Regions from separate parts of the Homo sapiens genome. Here region 1 is linked to region 2. Evidence: fine-mapped expression QTL. A gene starts in region 2. The other region holds a variant in brackets. All regions are shown on one strand. Distances are between the middles of the regions.

Region 1 (8,340 bases), 53 kb after region 2:
CAATATGTAATGTTAGGAGTTCCTGGAAGAGAGAACAGAGACAGTGTAGGTGAAGAAATAAAAAGAAAAAGAATTGAAGAACAGAGCAAGCTAAGTCTCCAGATTGAGAGGGCCCAATACAATCTACATCTAGACACAATATTGTAAAATTTTGGAATATTAAGGATAGAAGGAAGATATTAAAGTGGCCAGGGAGAAAACAAATGAGGTCATCACGATTAGCTCAACACAAAAATGGATGAGAAATAGACTGCTAACAGATTTGTCATCAGCAACACTGAATGCCAGAAGTCAATGGATCAACATCTTCAGAGCTTAAGGAAAATTTTTGTACCTAGAATTTCATAGTAAGGCAGACTGTCAAGAAGAACATCAAAGTGAAGACATTTTCTGTCAGGCAAATTTTCAGAAAGTCTCCTTTGCACCCTTACTGAGGAAGTATCTTGAGGAAATTCTCCAGCAAAATGAGGATGAAAACCAGGAAAGAAGAAGAAATGGGATCCATAAAACAGTGGACCTTACTTAGGATGTCTCATTCTAGAGTGACAGCCAAAAGGGTATCTCACCCTAGAGTGACAGCTATCCAGCAGACTAATTTCAGATGAGAGCATACTGTCTCGGGCTTTCTGGGAAGAATGTGCATTCAGTGCCATAGATAGTATCATTGAAGAGCTGGGATGCTTGAGAAGATTATTTAGTCAAGAAAAAAGAAAGACAAATCAACAATATGTCAAAAAATTCAGGTCCAATTATAGAGCAAAATAAAATGAGGCATGATTTTGAGTTATTCATGAAGAATAAGAAGAGGCTTGATAGGTACATTTCCTTTTCTATGGCACAGGCATGATGATATTGGGTGTGTAGGGAAGAAAATATCCTAGCTTATACTAGGCTCCCAGTAAGAAGTATTTAAATAGCCAAAATAATGTGGATATCATTTATTAGTATTCAATGTTCAGATCAGCCTATTAACAAAGTGTGAAAGGTTTCATTTTTTATTCAGAACTGAAGTTGAAAGTAATTAATGCTGACAAAGGGAAAGAAAGCAGAAAGAGATTGAGAATTAGAGGAAGAGAAGTGGAATCAAAGGTAGAGATACTTATATATTCAAAGTGGGGATGAAAAGATCTTCAGTTAATGGAACAAGAACTAGAGGATTAGTGTATTGTTCAAAGCTATAAAATCAAACCAATAGATGTATTAAAAAGTGATGTAACTATCAGACATTTGGAGAGAGATGGACAAAGGAAAGTGGCGATAGTGTAAGTTAAATCCTTATCTTTTGTAATGGGGAATTATTAAAGATGTTGTAAAGTCAGTAAGTCAAGAAATTATTGCTCAAACATATTATTTAAAGTTAGAAAGTTACCAGACGATCTAAAATAAATATTGTTAAAAGCATTACCTCTAGGGAATGGGATTTAGATTTAAAAAGGGTGGGATGGGAAACTGTGTTTTTCATTTTAAGTCCTTCTGTACTATTTAATTTTTTACCTTGTGCATGTATTACTTTGAAAAAATTTTTAATAAACCCAAATAAAAATCTTCCAGTGACTTCACATTGATTAAGATGCAACCCAGCTAAAGCCTTTAAAATGGTTTTCAAGGTCCTCAAGTATCTAGGTCCACTTGATGTGTCCAGGCTCATGATATCTCCCCACAAGTCTCTATTTCCAACCAGATTAAGTATCTTCCAGTTATTAAAACACACTTCACATTCTTTTGTTTGTATAGGTGTTCCACAAAAAACAAAGCCTACTGCTGATCTCACCATGTCTGCTGAGTAAGCTTACCATCTAGTGGGTTTTAATATTTGTTGAATGAAGGAATGTCCAATACAGCATTGAATGAAGTTTGCCAACTTCATTCTTTTCCAAGAAGGCCTTTGATGTTTGCCCCTGTTCTGGGAAACATTTCAAGAAGGACCATCCAGGGCCCTAAGCTTTCCTGCACTCCCCTTCATTTGACAGCTTTAATAAGTTTTAGTCTTATATGAGGCCAGCTAGTGTCAGAGCATTTCTGTCCATCTGTCAGTCTCCCTGGTGTACTCTTTGCTACTTTCCCTGAACATCGTAACCTCTTTTCAGCTATTTTTAACCCTGTACTTGGGAGAAACAGCCAACTATCTAGTGGAAATCTTTAGGCCACCAAGTTTCTTTTTTTTAAGTTTTATTTTACTTTTAATTGACTCATAATAATTGTACATATTTATAGGGTATAGTGTGATGTTTTGATACACGTATATATTTTGTGATGATCAAATCAGGGTATTTAGCATATTTTTCACCTCAAACATTTATCATCCCTTTGTGGTAAGAACATTCAAAATCCTCTCTTCTAGCTATTTTGAAATATACAATATAATATTGTTAACTATAGTCACCCTACTGTGCAATAGAACACCAGAACTTATTCCTATCTAACTGAACCTTTGTACCTGTTGACCAGTCTATCCCCATCTCCCCTGCCCCACTACCCTCCCAAGCCTCTGGCAACCACTATTCTACGCTCTGCTGCTATTAAATCAACTTTTTAAATTATAGAATCCACTTTTGTGTGAGATTGTACAGTATTCGTCTTTACATGCCTGGCTTATTTTACTTAACATAATGTCCTCTGGGCCCAATTACGTTGCCACAAATGACAAAATTTCTTTTTATGGTTGAATAGTCTTCCATTGTATATATACACCACATTTTCTTTATCCATTCATCCACTGATGGACACTTAGGTTGATTCCATGCAACTACTGTGAATAATGCTGCAATAAACATGGGAATGCAGATATCTCTTCCACATAACTGATTTTATTTCCTTTGGATATATACTCAGTAGTGGGATTCTGGATCATATGGTACTTCTATTTTTTAACTTTTTTAGGAACCTTCATTCTGTTTTCCATCATTGCTGGACTAATTTACAACAGCATATGAGACTTCCTCTTTCTTCACATCTACCCCAACATTTGTTATTTTTTGTCTTTTTGATAATAGCCATTCTAACTGGACTGAGGTGATATGTCATTATGGTTTTATTTGCATTTCCCTGATGATTAGTGATGCTAAGCATTAGTATGTCTTCTTTAGAGAAATGTCTATTTAGGCATTTTGCCCATCTTTAAATGGAATTATTTATTTTTCTGCTATTGAGTTATTTTTCTATATATTCTAGGCATTAACCCCTTGTCAGATGCATAGTTTGCATATGTTTTCTCCCATTCCTTAAGTTAACTTCAATCTGTTTCCTTTGCTGTACAGAAGCATTTTAGTTTAATATAGTACCATTTCTCTATATTTGCTTTTGTTGTATGCTTTTGAGGTCTTATTCAAAAAATTCTTGCCGAGACCAATGTCATGAATTGTTTCTCCCATGTTTTCTTCTAGGATGCTTACAGTTTCAGGTCTTACATTAAAGTTTTTAATCAATTTTGAACTAATTTTTACATATGGTAAGAGACAGGGGTCTAATTTTATTCTTCTACATGTGGATATTCAGTTTTCCCAGTGCCATCTATTGAAAAGCCTCTCCTTTTCCTAATGCATGTTGCTGACACTTTTGTTGAAAATCAGTTGGCTGTAAGTGCATGGATTTATTTCTGTTCTGTATTCTGTTTCAGTTATCTATGTGTCTATTTTTATACCAGTACCATGTTGATTTGGTTACTATAGCTTTATAGTATATTTTAAAGTCAGGTAGTGTGATGCCTCGAGCTTTATTTTTGCTAAGGATTACTTTGGCTATTTGGGGTCTTTTGTGGTTCCATAGAAGTTTTAGGATTTTTTTTTCTATTTCTGTGAAGAATAGGGATTGCATTGAATTAGTAAATTGCTTTGGATAATATGGACATTTTGACAATATTAATTTTTGCAATTCATTATTATCTTTCTATTTATTTGTGTCCTCTTCAATTTATTTTATCCATATTCTATAGTTTCCACTCAAGATGTTTCACCTCCTTTGTTAACTATATTCCTGGGTATTTATTTTATAGCTATTGTCAGTGGATTGCTTTCTTGATATCTTTTTTTAGGTAGCTTGCTACTGGCATATAGAAACACTACTGATTTTTGCATGTTGAGTTTGTATCCTGCAACTTTATTGAATTTATTTATTCTAACAGTTTTTTGTGGAATCTTTAGGATTTTCTATATATAAGATAATGTCATCTGCAAACAAGGACAATTTGACTTCCCCCTTTCCTATTTGGATGCCTTTCATTTCTCTTGCCTAATTGCTCTGGCTTGGATTTCCAGTAGTATGTTCAACAAAAGTGATAAATGCGGCATCCTTGTCTTATTGCAGATCATAGAGGAATAGCTTTCAACTTCTTCAGTATGATGTTATCTATGAGCTTCTCATTTATGGCCTTTATTGTGTTGAGGTATATTACTTCTACATCTCATTTGCTGAGAATTTTTATCATGAAGGGATGTTAAATTTTATCAAATTTTTTTCTTTGTCTATTAAAATGATTATGTCATTTTTGTCCTTCATTCTGTTAATGTGATGTATCACATTTGTGATTTACATATGTTAAACCATCCTTGCATCCCTGGGATGAATCTCACTTGATTGTGGTGAATTATTTTTTCAATATGCTGTTGAATTTGTTTCACTTATATTTTGTTAAAGATTTTTGCATCTATGTTGATAAAGGAGATTGGCCTGTAGTTTTCTTTTTATCAAGTTATCCTTGTCTGGTTTTGATAATGTTGGCCTCATAGAATGAGTGTGGAAGAATTTGCACCTCTTCAACTTTTTAGAATAGTTTGAAAAGAAGTGATATTATTATTTACATGTTTGGTAGAACTTAGCAGTAAAGTCATCAGTTCCTGGGCTTTTCTTTGACGGGAGACTTATTATTACTGATTCATTCTTGTTACACATTATTGGCCTGTGTAGGTATTTTATTTCTTCATAGTAGTTCAA[C/T]TTTGGTAGGTTGCATGTGTCCAGGAATTTATTTATTTCTTTTAGGTTTTCCAGTTTATTGGCATATAATTGCTCATAAAAGTCTTCTATGATCCTTTGTATTTCTGTGACATCTCCTTTTTTAGCTCTGATTATATTTATTTGAGTCTTCTCTTTTTTGTTAGTCTAGCTAAAACATTTGTTTATCTTTCAAAGGACCAACTTTTTGTTCTACTGATTTTTATATTATTTTCAGGCTCTATTTCACTTATTTCTGCTTGATCTTTATCAGTCTTCTCTTCTAGTAGTTTAGGGTTCAGCTGGCCCTCGTTTTTCTCATTCCTTGAGGTGCCACATAAAGTTTTTATAAAAGATTCTTATACTTTTTTGATGTAGGCATCTATTGCTATAAACTCCCTCTTAGAATAGCTTTTGCTGTATCCCATAGGTCTTGGTACATTATGTTTCCTTTTATTTGTCTCAAGGAATTTTTAAATTTTCTTTTTAATTTCTTTATTGATGCCCTGGTTTTGTAAAAACTTGTTTTTAGTTTTCACATATTCGTATATGTTCCATAGTTCCTCTTGGTATTCATTTCTAGTTTTTATTGCATTGTGGTAAGAGAAGATACTTGATAAGATTTTGATTTTTTTGATTGCTTGAGATATGTTTTGTGGACTAACATATATTCTATCGTGGAGAAAAGTTCCATGTGCTGTTGAGCAAAATGTACATTCAGTAGTTATTGAGGGGAATGTTTTATAAATATCTGCTGGGGCTATTTGGTCTAGAATGTAATTTAAATCTGATAATTCTTTGTTGATTTTCTATCTAGATGATCCATCCATTGCTGAAAGAGGGTGCTAAAGTCCTTTTTTATTTTATTTTAATTTTTCTCTCCCTTTAGATCTCATAATATTTGCTTTATATATTTACTTTATATATTGGGTGTTCTGGTGTTGTGTGCTCATATACTGACAACTGTCCTAACCTTCTGCTGAACTGATTTCTTTATCTTTCTTTATATAATGACCTTCTTTTCTCTTTTGACAGTTTTTTACTTAAAGTCTATTTTGTCTGATGTAAGTATTACTACCCCTGCTTTGTTTTGGTTTCCATTTTCACAGAATTTCATTTTCTCTTCTTTCACTTCAGTCTATGTGTGGCCTTATAGGTGAAGTGCCTATCTGGTAGGCAGCATGTTGCTGAATCTTGTTTTTTTTTTTTTTTAATTTAATCCATTCAGCCACGGCGTATGTTTTAATTGGGAATTTATTTCATTTACATTCAAAGTTATTATTGATAGGTAAGGACTTCTGCCATTTTGTTCATTATTTTCTGGTTGTTTTGTTTATCCTTTGTTCCTTTCTTCCTCTCTCATGTTTATCTCTGTGGCTTGATTAGGGTATTTGTTGTGTTAAGCTTTGATTCCTTTCTCTTTCTCATTTGTATATCTGTTGTAATTTTTTCTTTGTGATTAGTATTGGGGTTACATTAAAAATCTCTCATACTTATAATAGACTATTTTAAGCTGATAACAAGTTAACTTTCATTGCATACCAATACTCTAGACTTTCATTCTGCACCCAAATTTATAATTTTGTTGCTTTAATATACATCTTTATATATTGTTTATTCCTTAACAACTTATCATTGCTATAATCATTATTACAATTTTCACTTTTTGGCATCCCACAGAGCTGCATTTTTTTAATTATTATTATTTTTTAAATGGGGTCTCATTATGTTGCCCAGGTTGGACTCAAACCCCTGGGCTCAAATGAGCCTTCCATTTCAGCCTCCTAAATAACTGGGACTACAAGCACATGCCACAGCACCCAGCTGTTTTGGCCTTTAACCTTCATACTAGAGGTTTGAAACATTACATATCACCATTGCAGTAATGAAGCATTATGAATTTGATAATGCATTTATCTCCAGCAGTGAGATTTATACTTCATGTTTTTTTATGGTAGCAATTATCATGAAAACTTTTTTTTCCAATAGAAATACTCAAGCATTTCTTGTAAGTCTGGTCCAGTGGTAATGAGTTCCCTCAACTTTTGCTGATCTGGGAAAGACTATTTCTCCTTCATTTCTGAAGCAAAGATTTGCTGGTATAGTATTCTAGGCTAGCAGCTTTTTTTCTTCTAGTATTTTAAATATATCATCCCATTCTCTCCTGGCCTGCAAGGTTGCTGCTGGGAAATCTGCTAATAGTCCAATGGCAATTCCCTTATATGTGACTTGATGTTTTTCTCATGCTGCTTTTAGTATTTTTTTCTTTGTCTTTGACTTTTGACAGTTTGGTTATATGCCTCAGAGAGGACCTCTTTGAGTTGAATCTTTGTGGGATCCTTTGAACTTCATGGATCTGGATGTCCATATCTCCCCAAGACTTGGGAAGTTTTCAACTATTACTTTGTTAAATAAGCTTTCTTTGCCTTTCTTCATCTCTTCTTCTTAAGTTGCCAAAATGCAAACATTTGTTCACTTATGGTGTCCCATAAATGCCATAGGCTTCTTCATTCCTTTTTTTTTTTCTTTACCTCTGACTGGACTATTTCAAAAGGCCTGTTTTCAAGTTCAAAAATTCTTCTGTTTGATCTATTTTGCTGTTGAAGCTCTCAATTGCGTTTTTTTATTTCATTCATTGAATTTCTTGGCCCCAAGATTTCTATTTTGTTCTTTTTTATGATATCTCTCTCTTTGTTGAATTTCTCATTCAGATCATGAACTGTTTTTCCCGATTGTTGAATGATCCGTTTGTGTTCTTTCATGTCTCACCAAGTTTCCTTAGGCTCACTATCTTGAATTCCTTTTCAGGCAATTCATAAATTTTTATTTTTTTATTGGGGTCAGTTACTAGAGAATTATTGTGTTTCTTTGGTGGTGTCATGTTCCCTTGCTTTTTTATGTTTCTTGTATCCCTGCACTGGCATCTGTGCATCTGATGGAATAATCACCTTTTCTAACTTGGTAGCATAACTTTCAGCGGAAAAGACTTACACCTGCAGATGTGTCCTAGCATGTTGGTTGGGTAAGGTACATTTGTTTTTGTTCTGGGTGGATGCAGTAGTGTAGTCTCCATGCAGCTTCTTTAGCTGTAGTTAATGTCAGTGGTGCCTGCAAGTACCTCAGTGGCCTTGGCTGCAGAAGTTTGTGTGGCTGGTATGCCCACTCAGCTGCTTGTCCCCTGAAGGCTGGGCACTTAGCTGGTCTGTTTTCTGAGGATCCATGGCTGGTAGGTTCTCCTTCGGTGCTTATCTCTTGGTGGCTGCATAGTGAGCTGGTCTGTGCTCTAGGGAAGTGCAGGGCTGGTTGTCCAGTAGCTCTGCTCAGTTGCTGCTCCTCTGGAGGCAAGGCACCAGACTGGTTCATACTCACTACCAGGTTACCAGGTTTTTTGTGTCCTACTATCCCTAGTTTCTT
Region 2 (8,340 bases):
CTCCTAAGTGTAGGGGTCCACGGGACTGCAGTGGTCACACATCCGTGAAGTGGCCCTGACGCTTTGCTTTCTGCATTGGAAAAGTACCTGAGGCAAGGAATTACACATCCTAGCTACCGGACTGAGAGATGGCAGGGAGGTTGGGAAATGGAGAAGATTACATTGCCATGTTTTCGAGAACCGGTTCAGGTTTAGATTCCTAAACTATAGACAAGACTACAAATTTCATAAAGCTGAGAGCAATTTGCTGGCCATGTTACCGAGGGCTGGTTTCAGAATTCAGCACCAACCCTCTCCATCCATCCTTTCCAGCTTCCAGTCAAGCCAGAAGGAAGGGAATCAGATGGATTCTGTCTCTGTCTCTGTCTCTCTCTCTCTCTTGCCAATGACCTCACTCTAATATAAATAAGACCTTCTTCCTGCACTGTGGGTTCCTTCACTCCCACTGCTGTGTCTCTCCTCCCTACAGCACCTTTCTCAAAAGCAAAACCCCTCCACTTCCCTTCTGAGCCTGTTTGACCTGTTTTCCCTTTCTGCCCCAATCTCACAGGTCTCCCTCAATTCTAAACCCTGCTTCCCTTTTACTGCTCATTTCCCTTGGGTCTTTCTGTCCATCTTCTCTCTTACATATTGTTCACCTTCATCCCCGAGATAATTTAATTCCTTACAGGTAGAGAGCATCGTGGGCAGGAACTCTTACCAACAGACCACTTGCCTTGTTGTCTAGTACTGCACTTACTAGCCACCAAAAAGACTGCTGCTCTTCAGAGCTATAAAACATGCGATGACGTGTAAGAAAGGTCATCTTAAACTCCTAGGGGCTGTCAGCACTCTGCTTGCAGTCTGGCAGGGCTCCCCTCTCTCCTCCTTTCCTCCCAGGATCACAGCCAGTCCACAAAGAGCAAGCCTGAGAAGGAGAGGAAAGGGGTGGGGGAGTGGTGGGTGAGGGGGTTGGAGGAGCTGAGGGGTGGCCAGTAGCGGGAGGAGGCAAGTGAAATGGAAACTCCTGGCCTTGGCTGGCCCAGAACTCGCACTGGCCCAGGTTCAGGAGTCTTGGTGTGCTTGCTGGTGAAGGGGTTTTCTCTGCTGCACTGGCTCCGTGTCCTTCCATACCCTAAAACATATACACACACAAACACACACACACACACACACACACACACACACACACACACACACACACAGAAACATGAGGCGCCGAGAGGACTAGCCAGTGATCTCAGCCTCAAGGACTTTGTACTGCAAGAGCGCTGGCATCTGAATTCCAAGGTCATGCTCCACCTCTACCTGCTGCAAACCCCTTCTGCTGCTTGCATTTCAGTGTTCCTTTTTGTATTAATATAAAGGAGGAGAGTGGATGAGATGTTGTAGCTCTGAAATTCTATGACCAATTGCACAGCAAAAACAACAGCAACTAAAAATGGTGGGTTTTGCTTGTGTGCCTGGAGAGGGAGTGGGGGTGGGCAAGCTTATGTCCTGTTGACTGTCAGCTTCTGAGGGGAGAAGGGATCTGGCAAGAGAGAAGTGCAGCTGTCTTGGCAGAGAGAATGAGAAATGAGAGAATGAGAAAGAGAGGTAACTGCAAGCAATCCTGGTCTTTCAGACACACTCAGTCTACAATCCCCAAACACCCACCTGCCCCCACAGTTTCCCCCCAGACACCCCATTTAACCGCACAAACACATCCAGACGCTGGTTTTTCCTTTCACCATAGTAGTCATAAACTATGCCTCTGTGCTAGTAGCTGGGTGCATTCACTTCTAGAAATCTCTTAGAAGTAAAGTCCCATCCATGTCTGCCCTCCAATCTCAGGCTAGGCCTATGTAGTTTTGAGGGGAGACTAGATTTGCAGGGAAATGAGGAGAGAACACACAACTTGGAGATTTGAAGAGCAAAGGAGACAAGGGCCAAGGAAATCATGGAAGAAGTCTGGAAGGATCTGTCCATTCTCTGGTAATGGTGAACATTCACATAGGGTTTTCCATGTGCCAGACACTGCTTTAAGAGCTTTATCTGTATTAAGTCATTTAATCTTCATAAAAATTCCATGAAGTAGAGACAATTATTATCCCCAATGTTACAGATGAAAACACTAAGATAGAAGTTAACAAGCCCTCTGTGATAGGCAGAAAAATAGCTCCCTAAAGATGTTGATATGGTTTGGCTATGTGCCCCCACCCAAATCTCATCTTGCAGCTCCCATAATTCCCACGTGTTATGGGAGGGATCTGGTGGGAGATGATTGAATCATGGGGGTGGGTCTTTCCCCAACCGTTCTCATGATAGTGGAGAGGTCGCAGGAGATCCGATGGTTTTAAAAACGGCAGTTTCCCTGAACAAGCTGTCTCTTTGCCTGCCGCCATCCACATAAGATGTGACTTGCTTCTCCTTGCCTTCTGCCATGATTGTGAGGCCTCCCCAACCACGTGAAACTGTGAGTCCAATTAAACCTCTTTCTTTTGTAAATTGCCCAGTCTGGGGAATGTCTTTATCTGCAGTGTGAAAATGGATTAATACAGATGTCCAGATCCTAATTCCCAGAATTTGTGATACGCAATGCTACATGGCAAGGGAGAATTAAGGTTGCAGACAGAATGAAGGCTGCTAATTAGCTGACCTTGAGATGGGAAATTATCTAGATTATCTGGATAGGCACAATGTAATCACAAGGTCCTTCTAAGTGAAAGAAGGAAGCAGGAGACTCAAAGAAGGAGATGTGACACAGAAGCAGAGGCTGGAGCCATGAGATTGCTGACTTTGAAGATGAAGGAAAGGGCTGCAAGCCAGGGAATGCGGGAGCCTCTGGAAGCTGGAAAAAGCAAGGAAAATAGATTTGTCCCTAGATCCTGCAAAGAGAAACACATCCCTGCCTACACCTGGATGATAGCCCAGTGAGACCTGTGCTGGACTTCCAGGACCTACAGTCCTGGAAGATAGTAGTAAATCTGTGTTGTTTTAAGCCACTAAATGTGTGAAAATTTATCACAGCAGCCTTAGCAATGAATACACTGCCCAACTTGTAAGCAGAGGATGTGGTGGCTTCAAAGTCCAGGCTTTTTCCCTGCTACTCCTTTCTTTCTTTCCTCCCTCATGCCCAATATCTGTCATCTGTTGATTGGTTAGTAACATTCTCAACGCCTTACTGTTTTATTAAACTTATAAAAACAATGTATTGGTTTAAAAAAAAACAATTCAGTGGTTGTGAAGGTAAGAATCAATAGACAATTTCTCCACCGTTAGCCCCGCCTCTTATAGAAGCACATGCAGCATGTCTTCTTCATACACGAATGTAATGCTAAAGCTGATGCAGTGGCTCAGGCCTGTGATCCCAGCACTTTGGGAGGCCGAGGCGGGAGGATCACTTGAGCCCTGGCGTTCGAGACCAGCCTGGGCAACAAAGTAAAACCCTGTCTCTAACAAAAAATCAAAAAGTTAGCTGGGCGTGGTGGCGGCGCACTTGTGGTCCCAGCCTCTGAGGTGGAAGGATCGCTTGAGCCTGGGAGGTTGAAGCTGCAGTGAGCTGTGATGGCACCACTGCACTCCAGCCTGGGTGGCAGAAGCAGACCCTCCCCCTGGAGGGGAGGGGAGGGGAGGGGAGGGGAGGGGAGGGGAGGGGAGGGGGAAAGAGAGATCCTACTCTCCATTTTAATACAACTTGCTTTTTTAATTAAAAACTATAGCTAGAACCGATAGATTTCACTCGTCCTTAAAAATAGTCCTGTATTATTTTATATAAACATCTCTCGCTATTTATCAAGGCCGTCACTTGTTCAGAAGTATTCTCACTTTTGTTTTGTTTTGTTTTGTTCTTAACAATTTGCTCCCTATATTCCTGGGCTGGCGCCTAGGCCTGCATCCGGGATTTGGCGCCACATCTGCGGGCAGGGCCTCTGAGGTCTAGGGGAGGGACGGCGCCGGCCAAGTCCCGCCCCCGTCCGCGTCGACCAATCAGCTCCCTGGAAGGCCCCTCCTCACCACCCCCCACCCCCGCAGTCTCCGCCTAAGACTTTCCAAGTCCTGTAGTTTCGAGCCCGCTGCCCTTTGCCTCCTGGGCGGAGAAGCTGCTTCCTCCTGGGAACAACCGCCTCCCGCTCCTAGCAGGTTGCTACTGCCCCGAACCCGCGCTGCAGGGAACAGCGGGGCAAACAGTGAGTGGGGTTCAGCGTAGACTCTGGACCAGGAGAGGCCCGCGGTGACCGAGGCCTGGGCCCCGGGTTAGTGTCCGGGGCGGGGAGCGGTGGGCGGGGTGCGACGTTTAGCGTCTGGGGAGGGCCGGGCGTGGATTGCGGCCTCTGCGCGCGCCCCCAGGTGATAGAGCCGTTCCACCGAGGATCCCTTCCTTCGTCTCTACCCCGTTGATGATTTTTCTCTGCAGCTCGGTGCCTATTTCATTCTCGCCGCATTGTTATGCCCTCTGCTGGGCAGGAGGCGATGACCCCCCCTATTTTCGTAGGATTTGTTTTTTGCTCCGCAAGGAGCCATTAAGATCTGAGCTAGCAGGAACCCTCGAGGCGATTTGATCTCGCCAGCTGGGGGCTTGCATTCTTCTAGGCTAGCTTGTCTCCGTTAAGCCCAGGTGGAAGTTCTCATCCACCCCAGTGCTCTAGGCGCCCACGGGCGCAGTGTGGGTTTGTGGTGGGGGAAGGGACCTGGGGAGGGGTGGCGGTGAGAGCGGCGCGGGGATTCAGGCTGAATGTTAGTCTGGAATGCATTTGGCCTGAAGCAGCAAGTGCTGGGTGATACAGTTCCCTGGTAAACAGCCGAGAGCTGGCCGCTAGTTTGGCCCAACCTGCAACGGAAGAAGGCCTTAAGTACAGGAGAAAAAGATCTTTGCCAATTGGATAATCATGGAAATTTAGAAGAAGTACAGCTCGAACTAGACGTAAAGGACAGAATGTGTCTGTCTAGCTGACCAGCCAACCATCGGTCCATCACTTTCATCCTCCAAACTAGTGATTTGTTGATGAATTGGTTTCAATACTTTGTTTTAAAATGTTGAATAAAAAGTAAATGAAATATCTCAGAATGGTCTAAAAAATAATGAAACGAATGCCTGACCATCTCCTTGGGTCAAGAAATAGGGCGTCACAGTACCTTAGAAGCCCATGAGTCCCAACTGATGCCCATGGTCCATTCTCCTCCATTCTCTGAGATGTGACATCTTTCGTGATTTTTGTCTTAATTTAATGAATCCCTTGCTTTTCTTTTTAGTTTTACCATATTTGTGTGTGTATTCCTAAAACATATGTATTGGCTTTCTCATTATAATGACATTATATTAATGACATTATCCTGTACGTATTCTTAAGTTTTATAGATTCATCTTTCATGCTTCCTTCCATTTTCGTTTTCGTCATTTAAGGTGTAAATGTACATAATTTATCCATTCTACTGCTGATGGACATTGGATTGTTTCTACTTTTGGAGGTGTATGATTTATCTATAAGCTATGTAACAAATTACCCCAACACCTAGCAGCTTCAAACCAAAGCGAACAAACAAAACAAGTCCTGTTACCTCCTATCTTACAGTTTCTGTGATCAGGAATCCAGGAGGGGCTTAGCTGGGAGTCTCTGACTCAGGGTCTCTCACAAGCTGTATCAACAATCAAGGTATTGACTGGGCCTCAGTCATCTCAAGGCTAGGCGTAGGGTCGAGGACCTCTCCCAGGCTTACTCACATGACTGCTGGCAGGCCGATTGGCCTCACTGACCCTGGCTGTACACATCAGTTCTTTGCCACATGGGCCTCTGTATAAAGAATGGTTGCAACATGGCAGCTTACTCCCCCCAGAGAGAAGGCTCCCACAGAGAAAAAGAGAAAGACAGAAGTCAGATTCTTTCTGTAACCTCAGAAGCGACATCCCATTATTTTTGCCATTTTATATTCATTAGAAGTGAGTCCCTAGGCCCAACTCACACTGAAGGGAAGGGGGTGACACAAGGACATGAACACCTGGAGGCAGGGATTATCGGGGCCACTTTAAAGCCTGCCCATGTCCTCTAATATTCAAGTACACTTGTGTGGGAGCTTCCCTAGAGTATATAGCTGGGAGTAGAATTGCGGAGTTATAAGATTTATGTGTATTCAATTTTATTGGGTCATTTCTAAACTTTCCAAAGTGTTAAACCAGTTTGCACTCCCTCCAGCAGTGGATGAGCATTCTTGTTGCTCTACATGCTTGCCACAGCTTAGTCTTGTAAAATTACATTTTTTGTCAGTCTGGCAGGTATGAAATAGCATTTAACTGTGATTTTAACTAGCATTTTCCATAACTAATGAGATTGACTTTTTATATGTTGATCAGTGCTTTCTCTTTGTGAAATTCTGATTCCTGTCTCTTTCATTTTTGTATTGGATTGTTTGTTTACCTTTTTTATTGACTCATTGGAATGCTTTCTTTATATAATCTGGGTACGAAGCAGTAATTGTTAGCTATATATGCCACAGACATCTTTCCAATTTGCTTTTGAGGTTTTCTTTCTCTCTATGTCTTTATATCTGTTTCTTTCTCTGTTTCTATCAATGAATCTAAGTTTTGAATTTAATTTCAAGTTAGTAGTACTTTCTTTTATAGCTTTTCTTGTTTGATAATTGTTTTCTCAAGATCATAGATTAATTTTAGTGTATCGTTTTCTAAAAGTGTTATAGTTTTGCCTTTGGCAATTAGTCTTAATCCACATGGAAACTGATTTTTATGTTGTTTATTCCATATGGATAATCTGTTGCCCCAGCACCAGTGATTTGCATGAATCAGGATTTCCATATAAGCATGAATTCGTTTTAAGCCCCCATTCTTATTTTCTATTTGTCTAACTCTGCCTCAATACTAAATAATTTTTAACCACTATAGTTTTATTAAAAGCCTTGAAATTTGGTAGGAAAAGTCCTATCACCTGTTTCTTCTTCTTTAAGAGTGTTTTAGCTTTACTTGGACCTTTGACCTTCCATATAAATATTTAAATAAACTTATCAAGTTCTCCAAAACAAGAAACAAACAAGCAAATAAACCTGTTGGAATTCTGATTGATAATGGATCAACTCTGTGTCTTAGTCTGTTTTGTGCTACCATAGCAGAATACCTGAGACTGAGTAATGTATAAGGAACAAAAATTTATCAGCTCACAGTTCTGGAGGCTGGGAAGTCCAAGATTGAGTGGCTGGCATCTGGCAAGAAAGAGCCTTCTTACTGTGTCATTCCATGGCATAAAGGCAGAGAAAGGCTGAAAGAGAGTGTAAAAGGAGGGTGAATGCCGCCTTTTATAATGAACTCACTCCTACAGTGATGGCATTAATTCATTCACTCTGCTGTCATGACCTGATGGCCTCTCATTAAGCCCACCTCTTAACACCATTGCATTGGGGATTAAGTTTCCAACACCTGCTTTTTGAGGGACACATTCAAACCATTGCACTCTATAAATTATTTTGGGCAGAAATTATTTCTAAGACATTGGCCCTTTTCCTCAATGAACATGGTATATGACACTATTTAAGTCATCTTCAATGTTTTGTACTATTTTTTATTGTTTTCTTTTGGCTCAGTTTTTGTTAAATTTCTAGGCACGTCATATTTTTACTGCTATTGTAAGCATTTTCTTTTGTAAAAGTTATATTTTGTAGTTTATTGTTGCTGGCATACAGAAATTCAGTTGCCTTTTATATATTAATTATATATCAATCAAACTTGAGAAAATTAATAATTCTAAATTTACCTGTAGCTTCTTTCAGATTTGCTACATAGGCAATCATATCATCCGAAAATAATGATAATTTTGTTTATTCGTTTCTAATTCTCATACCTTCAATTTATTTTTTCTGTCTTATGACAATGACTAGGAGCTCCAGTACACTGTTGAATAAAAGTAATAAAGGGCATCTTGTTTTGTCCTTAAGATAATAATGAGAAATATTTCATTATGTCAACTTAAAAATGACATTTGCTATAGTTACTTTGTAAATGTCTTCCCCATCATAAGAAAATTCTGTTCTTCTTTTGGTAAGCACTTTTATTATAAATGGATGTTTTTTCAAATGCTTTTCCTGTAGCTGTTGAGAATATATATACTTTTTTTCCTTTAACTATATTAACAACATAGTAAAGTATAGTATTTAATTTCTGATATTAAACCAATTTTGTATTCTTGGAATAAACCTTTTGTGGTAAATATGTAGTAATTTCTGTATGTGGATATAGATACAAAAGGTAAACATTGGATATTTATATTTATACGTGTGATTTAAGATTGGCATGTAATTATACTTTTCTGTACTATCCTTTTCTGATGCTGGTATTATCATAAAATAATATGAATAGTATTCTCCCTTATGCTATTCTTT

Alleles and levels. Alleles are on the strand shown, and positions count from the first base shown. SD is a standard deviation of normalised expression in the study named.
With allele C in place of T in region 1, the expression in cerebellum of the gene that starts at base 3,999 in region 2 is higher (moderate effect, 0.51 SD a copy in GTEx).

What was found.
Region 1: its variant is fine-mapped to the expression of TCAF1 in cerebellum (GTEx, PIP 0.95). The same link has a PIP of 0.9 or more in esophagus muscle.

What each region holds. Positions count from the first base shown.
Region 1 is chr7:143,844,582-143,852,921 of GRCh38, reverse strand. It overlaps TCAF1 (TRPM8 channel associated factor 1), which reads left to right. Exons shown (of 9, transcript NM_014719.3): 9 at 1-1,547. All of the region lies in intron 2 of LOC112267988 (a long non-coding RNA gene), which reads right to left. Among named protein-coding and RNA genes, the nearest start is that of TCAF1, 53 kb to the left of the region's middle. The variant C/T (reference allele first, on the strand shown) is at 4,930.
Region 2 is chr7:143,897,835-143,906,174 of GRCh38, reverse strand. It overlaps TCAF1 (TRPM8 channel associated factor 1), which reads left to right and starts at 3,999. Exons shown (of 9, transcript NM_014719.3): 1 at 3,999-4,214. LOC105375549 (a long non-coding RNA gene) reads right to left here. Exons shown (of 3, transcript XR_007060574.1): 3 at 4,222-8,340. RefSeq lists enhancers at 1-426, 4,769-4,818, 4,494-5,031 and a silencer at 3,839-3,978.